Linked DNA regions of Homo sapiens: region 2 is linked to region 1. The links come from fine-mapping of genetic effects on plasma protein levels. Region 1 holds a variant in brackets. A gene starts in the other region. All regions are shown on their forward strands.

Region 1 (9,039 bases):
CTACTCAGGGGGCTGAGGTGGGAGGATCGCTTGAGCACAGGTCGAGGCTACAGTGAGCCAAGACTGTGCTACTGCCCTCCAGCCTGGGTGACAGCGACATCACGTCTCAAAAAATGCTTCAGAACACCTCCTGGTAACCTTAGGACACTGCCCGACTGACAAGGCTGAGAAGGCAAGGTGAGCAGAGCCCGGCGGGTGTGCGCGTGTGGAAGAGGGAAGAGAAGCCAGCGTCCGGGATGAGCCACACATCCGCCTTCCCGCACCGGCCTGGAGAGGACGACAGGGACGGAGCTTCCTTTTCATTCACATGGTTTACATTTCACATTATGGAGGTAACAGCAATGCAGGAGACACAGAAAAGAAACCGCCACAGCTGCAGCCTCACAGCAAGCACGGGGAGGAGGGGCACAGGGACCAGCAGCAGGGGAGGCCACCCAAGCCCCTGCAGGCAGGCAGCTGGTCACCTCCTCTCGAGATGGAGATGGTCTCCCTTCCGACCAGCACTGACCAGGGCAGATGGGGTGGGGGCGGGGGGAGGAGAATGCAAACCCAGCCACGGGGCCAACAGTTAGCAGGAAAACACAGGGCGGCAACAGCGGGGTCTCCACACAGCCCCGGCCCTTCTACCGCAGCCGCACCAGGAGGGCCTCAGGGCAGAGCTCTGACAGAAGCTGCTGGTGCCCACGCACAGGCTCAAGACCACCGCGCCTCACCCCCGAGGTTCCCCACCCGCTATGGGCAGTGGTGTCGGTGAGTGACTCTTCAGCTGGTAGAGCTGCACCAAGCGGGGGTCTGGTAGATGCCAAGATGGTTTCTCACTAATCTGTTCTTCCCTTCTGGCGAAAAGAATCTGAGAATGTTTTAAAATATTCCCTGTGTTCCCACCAACATTCTCAATCCTAAGAAATCTCCCTCTGCCTCCTACGAGGGAAGCAAAGTTAACACTTCTAAGGAGACCTTTAAAACAGAGGAAGTACAAATTGTCATAAGCTTTTAGGTTACCTATTAAAACGAGTTTTAATGTTCTAGCTATTTTTCCTACAAAGTACGAAGCATTTAAAGACAAAAATAAGGTCAGTCAGCCGAGCGCAGTGGCTCACGCCTGTAATCCTAACACTTTGGGAGGCCGAGGTGGGTGGATTGCCTGAACTCAGGAGTTCGAGACCAGCCTGGGCAACACGGTGAAACCCCATCTCTACTAAAATAGAAAAAATCAGCCGGGTGTGGTGGCGGGTGCCTGTAATCCCAGCTACTGGAGAAGCTGAGGCAGGAGAATCACTTGAACCCAGGAGGTGGAGGCTGCAGCGAGCCAAGACCATGCCACTGCACTCCAGCCTGGGCAGCAGAGCAAGACACTGTCTCCCAAAGAAAGAACAACAGGCCGGGCGCGGTTGCTCACACCTGTAATCCCAGCACTGGGGGAGGCTGAGGCAGGTGGATCACCTGAGGTCAGGAGTTTGAGACCGGCCTGGCCAACATGGTGAAACCCCGTCTCTACTAAAAATACAAAAATTAGCCAGACGTGGTGGCACATGTCTGTAATTCCAGCTACTTGGGAGGCTGAGGCAGGAGAATCGCTTGAACCCGGGAGGCGGAGGCTGCAGTAGTGAGCCGAGATCGCACCACTGCACTCCAGCTTGGGTGACAGAGTGAGACTCTGCCTCAAAAAAATAAAAATAAAAAAATAAGGTCAGTCCTTGCAGCACAGCTCAGAAGAGCTCCACCTCGTGTGGGTTCTGGACTCCAGGGTGCAAAAGGAGTTGAAAACTCTCAACGTCCCTCCTATGGGGATTGGTAAAATGATTTATGGGTGACACCCACGCAATAGTATATTTTACACCTATCAAAAAGAATGAGGCCGGGTGTGGTTGGCACATGCCTGTAATCCCAGCACTTTGGGAGGCCAAGGCAGGAGGATCACTTGAGCCCAGAAGTTCAAGACCAGCCTAGGCAACATCGTGTAAACCCCCTCTCTACCAAAAATACAAAAATTAACCAAGCATGATGGCACAGGCCTGTAGTCCCAGGTACGGGAGACTGAGGCAGCAGAATCGCCTGAACCCAGGAGGCGGAGGTTGCAGTGAGCCGAGATTGTGCCACTGCACTCCAGCCTGGGCAGCAGAGCAAGACGCTGTCTCTCCCCAACCAAAAAAAAAAAAAAAAAGAATGACAGGCCAGGCACAGTGGCTCACGCCTGTAATCCCAGCACTTTGGGAGGCTGAGGCGGGCAGATCACGAAGTCAGGAGTTTGAGATCAGCCTGGCCAACATGGTAAAACCCCATCTCTACTAAAAATATAAAAATTACCCAGGCATGGTGGCACATGCCTGTAGTCCCAGCTACTTGGGAGGCTGAGGCATGAGAATCGCTTGAACCCGGGAGGCAGGGGTTGCGGTGAGCCGAGATCGCGCCATTGCACTCCAGCCTGGGCGGCAAGAGCGAAACGCTGTCTCAAAAAAAAAAAAAAACAAAAAAAAAACACACAAATTGTCAAAATCAGGAATGAAAGCAGGAATATCATTACAGATCCAGCAGACATTTGGGGGGTGGGAGTTCATACTAAGTTTTAAAACTATACAAATTCCAAAAATAAAATACAGGAGAAAATTTTTTGACCTTGGGATAAACAAAGATTTCTTAGATGGGAGACAAAAAAGAATGAAGCATAAAAGAATCTATTGGACTTCATTAAAATTAAAAATGTTGGCTCAAAAGATACTGCTAAGAAAACCAGAGGCCGCAGAATGGGAGGCGCCCTGCAGGAGGCGGCCTCTCACCAGGGACTGGGCTCCAGCACCTCCTTTCAAACGGCTGGCTCCACCGCGTGGGCTGGCTCCACCGTGTGGTGTGCCGAAAGACACGGACCAGCTGGTGTGCCCACGCCTTCCCAGCAGGAAAGCAAACACCACAAGCACCGGGGAAGGGGAGTTTGGCAGTTTCTTTAAAAGTCAAACACACCTCCCGTCCAGCCCGGCCACTCCCTTCTCCTGGGTGTTCACACGGGGCTGCGGCTGGGATGTCCATCCCTCCAAACGCATGCTCAAATCTGATCCCCAATTAATG[G/A]AGGTGTTTGGATCATGGGGGGAATCCTTTGTGAACGGCTTGGTGCCCTGCTCCAAGTGCGAGTTTTTGCTGTTAGTTCCCACAGGATCTGGTTGTTTAAAAGAAACTTTTGCCTCCCCCACTCTCTCCTTCCTCTGGCCACATGCTTCACACCCACCAGCTCCTTTCGCCTTCTGCCATGAGCAGAAGCAGCCTGAGGCCTCACCAGGTGCAGACGCCCAGGCCATGCTGCTTATATAGCCTGCATAACCATGAGCCACATAAACCTCCTTTTATAAGTCACCCGGCCTCAAGTATTCCTTTATAGCAACACCACACAGACTAAGACACCCAGGAAGTTAATACGCATCCACTGTATTTATAACTAGTATCAACAAATAATCATGACCAGAAGTGCTTAGGGATCCATTTAGTAACACGTGCAAGACCTTGAACACGCAAATTTCAAAACACTGCTGAGAAAAGCTAAAGACATTCATAGATGGAAAGCTCACAGAAACACTCAATGTTAAGATCGCAATTCTCGCCACATCAGTTATCACAACAGTCCCAATCAGCAGCCAGGCTAGCTTTTCTGATAGAAGTTCACGAGATGATTCTGAAAACGGAAATGTAAAAGGCTTAAAACAACTAAAACCATTTTGAAAAAGAACACTGGAGGATTCACACATACCAGTGCCAAGACTCAGCACAGAGTTACAGTCATCAAGGTGCTGTCCTCGGACACCGTGGCAAGTCATAGAGACCAACGAAACAGAGCAGAGACCAGAAGCAGACTCGGGCATAGAGGGCCCATTCTTTTCAGAAAGGTGCCAAGGCAATCCAGGGAGGAAAGGACAGTCCTTCGACAGACAGCCCTGAACACCTCGGGATCACACTGCGAGAGGGTGAACCTCTACCCTCACCTCGCACCACACACAAACACCATCTTGAAAGGGAACACTGTAAATTGTTTGTAAATATAAAAGCTAAGACTTTAAAACTTCTAGGAAGAAACACAGGAGAAAGTCTTTGTGAGCTAAGGGTATGCAAAGATATCTTAGAAAGGGCACAAGAAACATAAAAGAAAAATTGAGTAGGCCGGGCGCAGTGGCTCACATCTGTAATCCCAGCACTTTTGGAGCCCAAGGTGGGCAGATCACCTGAGGTCAGGAGTTCGAGTCCAGCCTGATCAACATGGAGAAACCCCATCTCTACTAAAAATACAAAATTAACCGGGTGTGGTGGTGCATGCCTGTAATCCCAGCTACTCGGGAGGCTGAGGCAGGAGAATCGCTTAAACCCAGGAGGTGGATGTTGCGGTGAGCTGAGATCGCGCCGCTGCACTCCAGCCTGGGCAACAAGAGTGAAACTCCGTCTCAAAAAAAAAAAAAAGAAACAAACAAAAAATAAGTAAATGGAACTTCACCAAAACTATAAACTATTTTCCAAAAGACAATGTTAAGAAAATGAAAAGGCAAGCCATGAGCTGGGAGAGAAAAACATCTTTTAAATATATATCTCAGCTGGGCGTGGTGGGTCACGCCTGTAATCCCAGCACTTTGGGAGGCCGAGGCGGGTGGATCACGAGGTCAGGAGATCGAGACCTTCCTGGATAACACGGTGAAACCCATCTCTACTAAAAATACAAAAAATTAGCTGGGCGTGGTGACGGGCACCTGTAGTCCCAGCTACTTGGGAGGCTGAGGCAGGAGAATGGCTTGAACCCGGGAGGCAGAGCTTGCAGTGAGATGAGATCACACCACTGCACTCCAGCCTGGGCGACAGAGCAAGACTTTGTCTCAAAAAACAAACAAATAAATATATATATGTATATACACACACACACACACACACACACACATATATATATATATCTCACAAAGACTTGTTTCCAGATGATATAAGGAACTCTTACAAGAGCAGCCCAACAGGCCAAACCCAATATTTAAAATGGACAAAAGATTGAACATAAACTTCATGAGAAGGCATCCAAAGGCCGACACACATGAAAAGATGGTCACATGGGGAAATCCACATTTTAAAGGCAGTGAGACGCCACCACAGGCAAGTTAGAATGGCAAAAATTGGAGAGACCGACAACACCAAGCAGTGCTGGCACAGCATGGAGGCCCCGGAACTCAAGCATTGGTGGGGGACTGTAGAACAGTACAACCATTTTTGGAAAACGGTTCACACCTTTAACCACACAACACAGCAATTCCACTCTTAGGTAGTATCCAAGAGCAATAAAAACATGTTCACAAAAGACTTGTACACAAATGTCCATAGCAGCTTTATTCAAATAGCAAAAAACTGGAAACAGACAAATGCATAAACAAATTGTAGCATTTCCACACAATGGGCTACTCAGAAGCAAAGAGCGTGGCTGACCCTCACCAACATCAGCGGGGCCGAGAATGCCACAGAGATGACGGAGCAATGAGATTCTGTTCATGGGAAACTAGAAAGTGACCTGAGGTCACAGCAGAGCAACAGCTGGCGGGGACGCCACATGGGAGGGACACAGGAGCCTTTGGGGTAGTGGTAAGTTCCACATCTGGACTGTGGAGGGGATTACACAAGTGCAAACATCATCAACATTCCTCAAACTGCAATCTGTCCACTCAAGACAGACACACGGGCCAGGTGACGTGGCTCACGCCTGTAATCTCAGCACTTTGGGAGGCCAAGGCAGGCGGATTACCTGAAGTCAGGAGTTCAAGACGAGCCTGGCCAACATGGCAAAACCCTATCTCTACTAAAAGTAGAAAAATTAGCTGGGCGTGTTGGCTGGCGCCTGTAATCCCAGCTACTCAAGAGGCTGAGGCAGGGAGAATTTTTTTTTTTTTTTTTTTTTTTTTTTGAGACGGAGTCTCGCTCTGTCACCAGGCTGGAGCGCAGTGGAGCGATCTTGGCTCACTGCAACCTCTGCCTCCTGGGTTCAAGCGATTCTCCTGCCTCAGCCTCCTGAGTAGTTGGGATTACAAGCGTGAGCCACCACGCCCGGCCAGCAGGGAGAATTTCTTGAACCCGGGAGGTGCTGGTTGCAGTGAGCCGAGATTACGCCACTGTACTCCAGCCTGGGCGACAGAGGGAGACTCCGTCTCAAAAAAAAATTAAAAAAAAAAAAAAGATGAGTATTTATGATTCATCTGATTTAGAGTTGGAATTTGCATGAGTAAATACTGTAAAATAATGTTAACCTCTACTCTAAGAAATTGAAAAAGATGCTCAAAAAACCGGGTGATTTATTTAAAACAACCCTGTCAGAGGCAGCGACTCTCACTCCACTCAGCAGAGGGAGCCCACGCCTGAGACCACCCAGGCGTGCGTGCTTGTGACACCGTTTCCAGTGAATTCGGGGAAACACACCCCTGGAGAACCCCGTCCTGCTCCTGGCAGACTTTGGCCCAGCTGGCCTGGGCTACGCCATGGAGGCTCACGTGGGGCCACCGTGGAGATAAGAGTCCTTTGGACACAGAGCCACGTTCTGTGGCCTGGAGAGCCAGCAGAGCCACGTGCTGCCAGCCTGACCCTACTGCTCAGAATGTGGGAACAGGCTGGGCGCTTTTTACACACGCAGCGTCTGAGGCCTACTCCAGACCCTCCGAGGCAGAGGGATCTCCATAGAACCCCTGGGTTTGCCGTGCAGGGCGAGCTGGGCCACACTGGCCTGAATCCCAGGCCTGCTCTCTGGGCTCAGAGTGTGAGTGTCTACCCACTCTGGCGACCCCGCTGTGCACAGCGGCCCTGAGCAGCCCACAGGAAGGCACTGCGCAGTGACGGCCCCACTCACCTTGGCCCAGGCCAGCTTCTCCCGGATGGCGGCATTGCCGGGCTCCACGTGGCGTGCAAACTTGAGGTTGTTGATGGTGTACTCGTGGCCACAGTAGACTCTCTGAGGAGAGAGGTGACAGGTGAGCTCGGAAGGCTGTTACCACCTGTGAAAGTCCTCAGGGACGGGACCTGGATGCCCCCGGGGGGTGTCCGGTGAGAGGGTGCCAGGAGGGAGAGCAGCCCCGCCCTGGTTAAGGCCCCCCACACCCCGGCCCGCAGGGAGGCGCTGCCTACTGTGTCCGGGGGGAGCCGGCCCAAGACCTCCAGCAGAGCTTTACACATCTCATCCGCAGTCCCTTCATAGAACTTCCCGCAGCCAGCCACAAACAAGGTGTCACCTGGAAACAAGGACAGCCACGAGGTGGGGGCCACTTGAGGCTGGTGGCTAGGACTCAGGAGGGGGCCAGGAGCAGGGTGACACTCACCGGCAAGGCCCAGGCCCCGAACCCTGGCTGCCCTCCGGCCACGGCTGCCCAGACTCAGCCCCCCTGCATTCCGGCTCCCACATCTCCTTCCAAGTCTCAGCTGACAGTCCAACCACCCAACTGGCCGAGCAGACCCGAAACCCAAGTCACTCCTCCCTCACTGCCCCCAATCCCACCAACTGTGGCTCTGAGACCCTCACAAATCCAGCCCTCTCCCCAAACACGCAGCAGCCCCTCTCAGGCCCATGCCTGGCTCCCATCTTCCCTTGGCCCCAGCAGCCAGCGCCACCCTGTGACCAAGGTCTCACCACCCTGGCTGAGCTGAGCGGGACCACCTCTCACCCATGGCGGAAGATGCGGCCCACACCGCTGGGCACCTCAGGCGCACCCAGGCTCCTTCCGGCCTCGGCCTCAGGACGGCATCCCCACCCCATCACTGCCCAGGCCTCTGTCCCCGCTTGCCCTCCTCTTGCTGCTTCGCGGCTGTCCTGGCCTCGCTGACCTCACGTGGCCGTCTGCCCCAGAAACAGGGCAGTCCCCTGAGAGGAGGGTGCCCAGCACCCAGCACAGTGGAGGCCGCCCCACTTCTCACCACCTGGGGCAGAGAAGCATGCAGCGGTGCTGGGCACAGGCCAAGGCCAGGAGTCCTTCTGGGCACGAGAGATGGGAATGGACGGTGGGGAGCCTGTTCCCCTGAAGGGCCCTAGACCTCGAGTCTGAGGACCAGCAGGAGGCCATGGAGTCCCCAGAGATAGGGAAGGGCAGACAGAGGCGAACTTGGGGCCTGGGGCTTCTGCTCCACAGGGCTGTCCTTGCGCCAGGCACACAGCCCAGGAGGCACAGGTGAGACCCAGGGACTCCGTGCTCGCTGCCCTGAGAAGAATCCTAAATCTGAGGTCCCCAACTCCATCCCTCCCACACCGGCACCACCCAGGCTCATCCCCCAGCCCTGCGCACTGCAGCCTGAAGGCACCTTATCCCTCACAGCGAGGCGCCCGTCCCTCCCGCCATGCCCTCCGCCCTCCTCTGGGGCTCCCTGGCCACACCTTCTCCCTGCACCCCTGGTTTGACTCCACCCAGGGGTCCGAGTGTGGCCCTGGGTCACTCCCACCTGGGTTCAAGGCTGGGGCTGCCACCTCCCACCAGGAGGCCTCCCAGCCGTACAAGGCCCACATCGAGTCACCGGGTGAAACCCCGCACTGTGAGGCCAGTCGGGACAAGGCCACAGTAACAAGCACGGGAGGCAGCCCCCACCACCAGCAGCCTCCGCACCGCCTTAGAAGGCCGCAGCCATGAAGGGCCCGGCCTACAGTGAGGCCGTCCCCCGGCCATATGACCTCCACAGGTGGCTCCACAGGTCTGCAACCACCCTGGGAGGCAGGCAGGGCCCCCAGACTAGCACAGGTCCCTGAGTCCACACTACGGCATCAAGGAACACAGCCCCAGGGCTGAGCCACCCCTCGCCCTGCTGGAAGAAACTGACTCCTTTCCCGTGGGACCCGCCCGGACCCCAGCTGTCCAGCAGTCTCCGCCAGCACAGCCCTTGCTGCAAGCGTAACTTCCTTCCAGACCACGATCCAAACCCATCATGGGAGGAATCGGCCAGCCCCACCATGAGGCTCCCCAGCACCCACCCCTGGGCCCCCTCACACCGGTGCAACAGAGAAGGCCACGAAGCTGCCCCGTGAGCCTGCCTGGCAGGAGACACAGGGTCTTCACGAAGAACCCCCGC
Region 2 (9,039 bases), not on the chromosome of region 1:
AGCTAACCATCACTCCCTGTCTCCTTTTTGCTCTTCCCAGAGTAAGGCACAGAAGCTGGTATGGAACCAATAGCAGGTCAACAAGCATAGAGGATGAAGTAAATAAAACTATCTTTATGAGAATATTTTTCATTATCTGCAGAGGTCTTTATGACATCCCATATGCTTTTAAGAGTGTTATTTCAGCTTGATCCTCATAAGATTCTCCAAAAGGGTCAATATTCTTTATGTAAGGAGAGGAGAGAGGTAGGGCACAGAGGGGCTAGGGGTTGCCCACCCATCAGCCAGGCGCTGGGGTTTGTTGAGTAAGAATTGCCCTCAAGAGGCTCTGAGTACCCAGGCTTGGCAGGTCTTGCCCTCCTCCTTTAACAAGAGGAAAAGCTCTCACATATTCTGTCTCCCGCTTGGACTCGGAGGAGAAGTTCTGGGTATCTGTGCTCTGAGACTCGTAGTCAACTTTGTAGCGCTGGCTGTCTTTAGCATGCCCTTTCTTGATGATGATTATCTTTGAATGGAGGGGGTGGAACTTGGGATCAGACACCCGGTGCGTGCTGGAGACGGACGGGCTCTCCACACTGCCGGCGCTGCGGTCTTCCTCCGACTCACTAGCATTTCCTTAAAACGCCCAAGAGAGACAAACACATGAGAGTCATCAATATCTATCACAGTCTTTTAAAAATCTTAACGTTGCAACCAGGTCACATGTAAATGACAATATTAGTTGGCAATCCAAGTGAGTTTTTTTTTTTAAAATACCTCGATGAAGTATTATTCCATCATACTACTCACTACATGGTGGTTGCTCTACCTCAAGAAGTTATCTGTTTGAAAGTCAATCTGACAGGTGCTCTTCCTAAGTAGCTGCAACTAAAGAAGGCAGACAAACGCTTCAGTGCCCCTCAGTAGGTGAAGGCAGTATGCTTCATCTTCCACCGGCAGGGGGCAGACCTGAGCCACGGGAGGCTGCTGCAGCGCCGGCTCAGAAATTTTGCAGTCAACTCCAAGTGTGGTCCTCCCACCCGCGGGAGCAGCGGCAGCCCGGGGACTTGGAAGAAATGCACATTCTCCACTCCGGAAACGCTGGAGTGGCGGCAGCAGTCTGAGTTGTAACAAGCCCTTATGGGAATTCCAAGGTTGACCAGTACCGTCCTCAATGCTACCAGGTAAACACGCTTATAAGAGCTTGGTGTCCAGCTCAGATGGGAAAACTGAATTATTACCTGCAAAGCGTTTTGCCTCAGGGGCTCAGAATCATGCAAGCATGTTGGTGGCTTGTTTTCTAGGTCCCCGTTACATCTCTAAAACTCAAGGTCTACACAGACCCTGTGCATCTTGCTGGTGCCTGCCTAAGTGAGTCCTTTTCACCCCGGGTGAACACAGCAGCACATGGATGCAGACAATGCCAAAGTCCCACTCACGGCTCAGACTTCTAAGTGCCAAAGAGCTTTTCCTTCCCTGGGTGGGGGTGGGGTAGGAGAAATCCCCCTCCAGCAGATCTCCCTTTTATAATAAAAAGTGCTAAATGAAGAAAGTCTGATGCTTAAAATGGATGCTGGAATGTTAACAGTTGAATTGGAATTTTAAGTATATGACTAAATTCAAGACTGGATCTGCAGCCAGGATTCTCACTCCATTCCTTCTTCAGAATGAACTTGGAGGGGCTGTAAGACCGCTATGGGGATCAAAGGCTACATTCAGAGCCCATGCTCCCAGGGCCTGTGGACCATGCCAAGGTCTGGAGGCATCGGCTTAAGTCCACAATTGAGAGTCATGAAATTTCTCTACTACAACAAACAGGGCTATAATGTGTAACCCTAGCAGGGAGCTCAGGTGGCCCATCTGGTCCACAGTCTATTCTAGAAAGCTACCTGGGGCTGCAATGATTTGGCTGCAGATGCTCTGCTCTCCCCTGGAAGTGGCTACTGGCAGGTCACTCACCAGGGCCTTAGGAAAGTCCCTCTCCTCTCTGGGTCTTAGTTTCCTCACCTGCCAAACAGCTCACTGAGGTCCTGCTGTAAAGTTCCCCAAGGGGTTTCATACCTTGGGAAGCACACATTCCCAGGGTCCAGCACAGAGCCTCACAGAGGAGGTCCCTACCTGCGAGGATTTGGTTTCAATTTCTTTTAATCTTAGCTTGCTTTCTTTTTCAAGGAAATACTGAGATAAAAGAGATACTAAGAATGTAAATACTCTAAGAACATGTAAATAAACGTATTTATACTTCTTTTCTAAGAACCTTGAGTAATTTCTTAAATTTCCTTGGTTTCTTCTTAATGCCTGGGCTGCAGACTAGGGCATGAAGACAAAACAGTTCTATTTAAGCAACAGATAATTGTGACTTTTGACTGTCGAAAATTTACCTTTTTTTGTCAAATAGATTCTAGAAGTCACTTAGATCTTTTTATAATCTTATAACTCACATCAACCTATACTACAGTGCTACTAAGGTGGTAATCATGATGATTGCTAAAGCCCAAGAATGACGATGTGTATCAGTATTTCTAAGATCACTTTTTGAATACCCCAAAATGCACAATAATGTACGACACTTGGCAAATGACATAACTTTGCCCCGAGAGACAAATGCCTCCAGCAGCTTTAACAGCTGACCAGAGCCAGTGTATGTTTCAGGCATCTTGCCTTTCCATGAATCCAGCATTTCTCAGGGGTGAACAGAGCCAGCCTTGCCGAGCCAGAAAATAACTTCACCCGGGCGTGGAACTCTACAGCTACATAAATTATAAAGGGACTGTTCATCCTGCTAGCCCTAGATGGGGGCCTGCCCAGTGACATCTGTCCAACGTGATCGTTGGGGAGTTGGGGGAATTAGGATGGGGAGAATTCTCCCAGCCTTCAGCTGTGCAAGGCAGGAACTTTATTTCTCATATAACTAGGTGAGGCTGGCTAAGAATGCTTGAAAGAACAGCTGCCAAATCCATTTAAACAACCCCCGCTCCTTTTTTTAAGGGAACAATGTGATGCCCTTACCAGAGTCGCTGTCTGCCTGATACTGATAGTGGCTAAGCCAAGAGGGTAACTCTGCCAAATGTTTGCATTTTTCCTCTTCTGGGGCTCCCCTTAACAACATCTCATTCCCCCCCCCATTTCAGATTAAGAAGGGAGACAGCCCTAGGACTGATTCCAATTCCCTTCCGTGTCATTGAAATTGACTTAGTCCACATTGCCCGCACCCACCACGCACCTGGAAGTTTGTTTGAGGTCGGCGCAGGTGCAGGGGTGGCCCGAGTTGTAAGAATGGTATGGTACTGAAAGTGGCACGCGGAGTTCAAACCTACACTCTGTTGTGGCCGCTGGGTAACCTTAAGAAGTTACTTCTTTTTCAGCTTCAGGTTTTCCAACCGCAGAAGATATCAAAACCCGAATCCACTTTACTTGTTTTTGGACATACCGGGACTAGACATTGCTTTGCAAACCAAAAGGCTGTGCAAAGTCAGTATTTTAAAAGAGAGGTACTATTTCCTACAACGTGCCTGCCCACCTTCCTTGGTCCAAATCCGCCTATATCCCCCCCATCCCCAAGCATCCCTGGGATTGCAGTCCGTGTGCACCCCCGTGCGGGGCGAGGAGAATCTCCTGTGTCCAGGATCTTTCCAACAGCTAAACATCGGTACCGCTCCCCTCAGCTCCGGAAACCTTTAACCCATTTTCACTGAAAGCGCTTTGCAATTTACAAGTACTCTGCACTTAGAGAATCGAGCAAGTAGAGGGCCGGCTGGGGAGGGTCCCTCCGGCGACCGCCTTCACCTTTCCCGGAGCGCCTTCAGTTTCCCCACATATTATCTCCAGTGAGAAGAAAAGCGGAGTCTCCCGCAGCGGCACCCAGCAACCCCCAGGCCCTTCGGCGCCAGTGCGCCGGGTGCTGCACGCAGCGCACCTGGCGCGGGCGGCTCACCTGGAGCTGGCGGCGCTGGCAGCAGGTAGGCGCGCAGGCGGCTGACGGCACTAGCGTTGACGCAGAGCCCGCGGCCGTCCAGCAGCGCCTGCAGCGGTCGCGCCTCGTCGGGCGACGGCTGGCAGCGAAGGCCGGAGCCACAGCGCTCGGTGTAGATGCCGCACGGCTGGCCCTCGCTCAGTGCGCACGTCAGGCAGCAGCCGCAGCCCGGCTCGCGCACCAGCTCCGCGCACACGGCGGGCGGAGGCGCGCACTGGGCCAGTGCACGCGCGTCGCACGGCTCGCAGCGCACCACGGGACCCAAGCCCGCCGAGCTCGCGCCAGCCCGCGCCACCGGCGGCCCGCGGAGCAGCACCAGCAGAGTCAGCGCAGCGGCCCAGAGCGTGGGTCGCGCCCGCTGCATGACGCCTGCAACCGGGGCACGCTGCTTGGCAGGCTGGGCGCGCAGGGATGGGGCGACAGTACACGGCGCGAAGCTGTGGAATCCAGGCAGGAAGCGGCTGATCCTCAGCGCCCAGCCGCAGTGCTCGCATCTGGGCGGCCCGGGCGCGCCGGCCGCTATATAGAAGCCGGGGTGGCCCAGGACACGCCCCGGAACGGCGCGCCCAGGAGTGGGGGTTGGGAGGGGGGCGGGTCGGCGCAGGCACGGCTGCGGGGGCCCGTGCTTCGCCCTGAGCAGCCGGGGCCGAGCTCGGGGGCGTGCAGCTCGAGACTCGCCCGGGCACCTGCTCCTCGTGCGCACGCCCGGAGCCCGGGTCACCTTGTCGTCTACAAGAACCAAGGTGTGCCCGGCCACCCCGGCACTCCAGGCCACCTCAGCACCCCCGGTCACCCCAGTCACTCCTGGCCAACTCAGCACCCCCGATCTCCTTGACCCCGCCGCCCTTACCCCTTCCGCTCTCGGGGTGAGGTCTCCCTGCGGCGAGCCGGTGTCGGGGAAACTGGCATACAGCGCTCCGCATTCGTGTGTACCTCGTGGAGCTTTCTAAAATTTAATTCCGTTGGCAGGCGAAGTCTTGGGACATTTCTGACTTACATTTGGGTCTCAGGGAGCCAAGGCACTGCGGGGTTTAATTTACACCCGCTGGGCTGTTTATATCCCCAGGGGCCCACAAATACGCATCTGAAGATGCGCCCGGGGCCTTCGCCCCTTTCCAGGCTTACTTCTCAACGCAAGAAGACTCTCACGTGTTGCTACACCGCAAGTCTCCAATTAAGAGTGGACCGGCAAGCGAATGCGTCCTTAAGGCAGGGCTTTTCAAATATTTTAAATGACAACTGTTCTTCTTGTCTTGGGTATTCTCCCTGATTATGTTTTCAAATGGAGTTTACACCCATGACAAAAGAATAATAAAGACAATAAACTGGGCACTGCTGAAACGTAATTAACCAAATAGTCCTTTAATAGGCAATTTTCATTGTCATTTTTTGAAGGCGACTTCGTATTACTGTATTCTCGATGCGTTGGGATTCTAGCTTATCTCTGCAATCTAAACACTTTTCAGTAAAGTTCGGGGGCGCAATTGCGCGCTGAGGTCGCTGTAACTCCTGTCGGCCTTCTCTGGCACTCGAGTTTCTTCAGTTTTGTCTGCGCACCCCCTCCCTTCGGTGACCAACAGAGGACGCTGGTGGTCCAGGATTGGATTGAGGATTAAATTTTTCAAGGCACTTTTCCAAAGAGTTTGTGGGGGTGGAGTGGGAAGCGGTGAGACCTCCGCGGGAGGAGACTTTCCTGAACGCTGTTGAAATTGGACGCTTGCCTTAGGAGGTGGATAGGTGACTTGAAGGAGCCCTTTGCAGTTTGGAGTAGTAATAGCAAATCAGGAGCTCCTCCATTCCCCTCCAGCACGAAGCCTTGGGTGAAGTTAATCTTCATTCATCATTTCTGTCTCTCCTAATCGATCTCTCGCCCAGTGTCTCTCCTTGTCCCTCTCCCTCCCTTTCTCTCTCTCGTCCTCTCCCCTTTTCCCCCTGTCCACCTCTTCCCCCATATCTATACAGCTTCCTTTTATACATATATACTCTCCTTTTAGAATGGAAAGATCAATTTCGTTCCCTCTTGTACTAAATAAATAAATAATTGGACCTCTACAAATAAAAAGAGACCAAAGACAAGAACAATGGAGTGCCCCGGGGTGACGAAGGCCCAGCACCGTCATTTTCTTATGAGCTCTTCTCCCACAGTGCTCAGGCTGTGGCTACACTCAACCTTGTTTACAGGAAACCGTGCCATAATCGTCGCTTGCTGTTTCCTTTCTCTTGTATCACCTCCTTCTAGTATCTGCGTTGACACCCAAGAACAGGATCTCTGATTTCATTGGAAAATTGAAGGAAACAAAACGAATCCCCCAGGTTTACATCCGTTCCTTAAATACTCGCAGAGACCTTGACTCTGAAATTAGAGCTGGGTTCGGCATCAAATGCAATTCTTGAGGTCCCAGGTCTGCAGTTCTGGTTAGTGCAATGTTGCAGCAGAGCCTGGACTGACCACTGGTTAGTGTAGCACTTTTTATTCAGCTTTATCATCTGGAGAGTGGACAGGGGAAGATCAGAAACAATGTCTTTTTGGAAAGGATTAAAAAATTTGTTTTATTCTTGGTTCTCTTCTTTTTTCCCTCGCATTGCAGTTGGAGAAACTTGTTCAGTGCCGAATGGCTAGGGGGCGCCAAAGCTCCAGGCGTCCAGCCCGGCCTCAGGGACCACGGGACACACGTAAAGACTAAGTCACATTTCAACTTTCAAAGGCTATTCCAATAACAATGTTTTATATAGATTGCCATCACCTTTATCATGACATCTTGCAACAGCAGAGTAAATTTGAGGCAGTGACACGGGGAGAATTGTGTTTTGTTATTTAGCCAGTTTTATTTGATAACTGCAAGCTCCCTGCCCCTCCCGGAACATAATTGTTGCAGGAAGGATTTGGACTGGATAAAACTTAATTTTGTGACATGCTCGTTAATTCTGTTAAACTTCCAATTCATCTGGTGTTTGTAGTTTTTAACATAAACTAGTATTTAGTGAGAAAGATGTTTACCCCCTGTGAAGGTGCTTGGCATACAATTGCTAATCATTGCAAAAGTAGCGAATAACCATCCGAATAGAGGTCAGGAGGCTGCATAGATCTCTTTTCACTAACGGAGTCCAGCTGACCTGATTATAATTAGTGTTTCCTTTGGTCAGCCTCGTTATTTTCACCAGGTGACCTAAACCACTCATTTCTTTGAGCCCACTCCTGCTGCTAAAGGGCACCTTGTCGCTGCGTGATACTGGCTCCTTTGCTTTTCTTCTGCTCAGCCCCCAGCTGGACAAGCCACCCTAGGGTCTCTCTCCTTCTGACAGCACTACTGTTTCTCAGTGTCCTCTGGGGTGTGGCTATCAGTCTTACTGACCACCAATAGACTTAGAACAGAAAGAGCCAAACTTCTAAAGGCAAGCAGTGTTGGGGACCCAGTTGCTAGGACTCAGTGGCTCTCACCCTATAAGCTTCAGGTTTTTTTTCCCCTTTAGGGGACGTATTGGTGGAGACAGGAAATCTAATTTTCTCTCCATCAGATCGCCTGCTGGGTGAGCCTCCCGGAATTACATATACTGGGCTTGGGGATGCATTGGGGACCATCAACTGCCAACATCACGGTGGCTAACAACACTGCAAATGACTTTTACTCACAAATAACATCATTAAGAGTTCATCTATCCACTTAGTCCAAGAATGATTACTAAGCACCTCCATGTGCCAGCTGCAGGATTTCACAGGCTGGCTGGAGTGACTCACCAGAGTCCAGACAGTGGTAGGCAGTGTGACAGCAGAGAAAACAGAGAGGTTCACCGGGTGCATTTATAACCCTGCTGGAGGGATGGCAAACCTGTCCGTGTGGTCAGAAAAAACTTCTGAGAGGTGGTGGCATTTGAATTGAGTCTTAAACAATGTGGGAGAGTCCAGCTGAGAGAGGCAGGCAAGAAGAAAGTATGGGCATCCACAGAGAGTCATTCTGTGTGCCTGGAGGGACGAGGGGAGGGCTCAGAGGGGATGGTGTTGGCATTGTGCATGTGACCTGTGGAAGGCATAATTCTGAGATTTGGAAGAGAAGAGAAGGTAACTGGATATACTGGATGGGGACAGTGGTACCTGTGGCAGTGGAAATCCATGGTCCAGAGACAGGGGCTCCTCAGAGTTAGTGCTGTCCCGTGTCGTCAGACAATCTGGAGATAGATGCTCCAGAGAAGGGGCCTGGACATTGGGAGCCCACCCCATGGAAGGGAGGTTTCTGCTCAGGACAATGATACTCCTGTCATGGCTTTCTCTCACAATAGTGCTACCTTCTACATGTGGGCACCCACACCCTTGCCTACACAGTTAGTCATTTACATGATAAGAGTTACCTCTGTGTCTCCTGGTCATTCAAACAGAGGCAATTCCTGACTCTGTCTAACTTCCAACTTTTCTTCAAGGTTGAAGCTTCAGAACAATGAGAGAGACTGGGGACTTCAATCACAGTAGACTAGAGTTTATTCTTAACTGCTTGCTCAGTTCTCCTCTCAATAGCTTTCTGACATTGGGCAAGTTCTGCAACTCAATTCTAGGACCAGGTAAGGGCACTAGTACCTATCTTACAGCACTGATGGAAGGATGAACTCTTAGACACAGTGTTGCCTGGGGAATGGGAAATAAAAGTTCATCCTTGTGTTCACATAGCCACCTGAACAATCTTAAAGGTTTTATTCTCAAATGAGTCCTAGCACACAGCCCACATACCTTGTCTCCTTAGTTCAAATGTCAACATGCTAACAATTGAGTCTACCTGTGGGCATGACATACAGTCTTCAAACTGGCCAACAGTCTAGTATGGTCTTTCCCTGCCCAGTGAAGTCTTAAAAGGGGACAGGAAAGATTTTAGGAGCACTTTTCATTCAGCTGGTTTGTCCCCGGCACCAGTGTCAATCCTGTGTCTTTACCCAAGGGCATCTTTGGTGCCACTTCAAGCTCCTTTTCCAGCTTTGCAAGGCCAGATAGAAAGGAGAAGATTCCCAGTAGCTCTCCTATCATAGCTAGAAGAGTCCTGAGAGTCCTGTTATCTATCCCTTTCACTGGAGATGGAGAGACGGAGGCAGACCCTTTTTGCTGG

Alleles and levels. Positions count from the first base shown, and alleles are read on the strand shown. Strength reflects both the effect of a copy and how common the allele is.
With allele G in place of A in region 1, the plasma level of the protein whose gene starts at base 4,448 in region 2 is higher (weak association).

Evidence for each region. PIP is the posterior inclusion probability: the model's chance that the variant is causal. The UK Biobank Pharma Proteomics Project read protein levels with antibody pairs (Olink). The fine-mapping took linkage between variants from a reference panel, not from the people measured, so its PIPs are less certain.
Region 2: it holds the start of IGFBP3, and the variant in region 1 is fine-mapped to the plasma level of the IGFBP3 protein (UK Biobank, PIP 0.98).

Annotation. Positions count from the first base shown.
Region 1 is chr16:1,810,052-1,819,090 of GRCh38, forward strand. It overlaps HAGH (hydroxyacylglutathione hydrolase), which reads right to left. Exons shown (of 9, transcript NM_005326.6): 6 at 7,117-7,220; 7 at 6,842-6,943. Among named protein-coding and RNA genes, the nearest start is that of HAGH, 12 kb to the right of the region's middle. The variant G/A (reference allele first, on the strand shown) is at 3,064.
Region 2 is chr7:45,916,825-45,925,863 of GRCh38, forward strand. IGFBP3 (insulin like growth factor binding protein 3) reads right to left here and starts at 4,448. Exons shown (of 5, transcript NM_000598.5): 1 at 3,914-4,448; 2 at 389-615. The coding sequence starts at 4,316. RefSeq lists enhancers at 4,251-4,831, 4,832-5,412.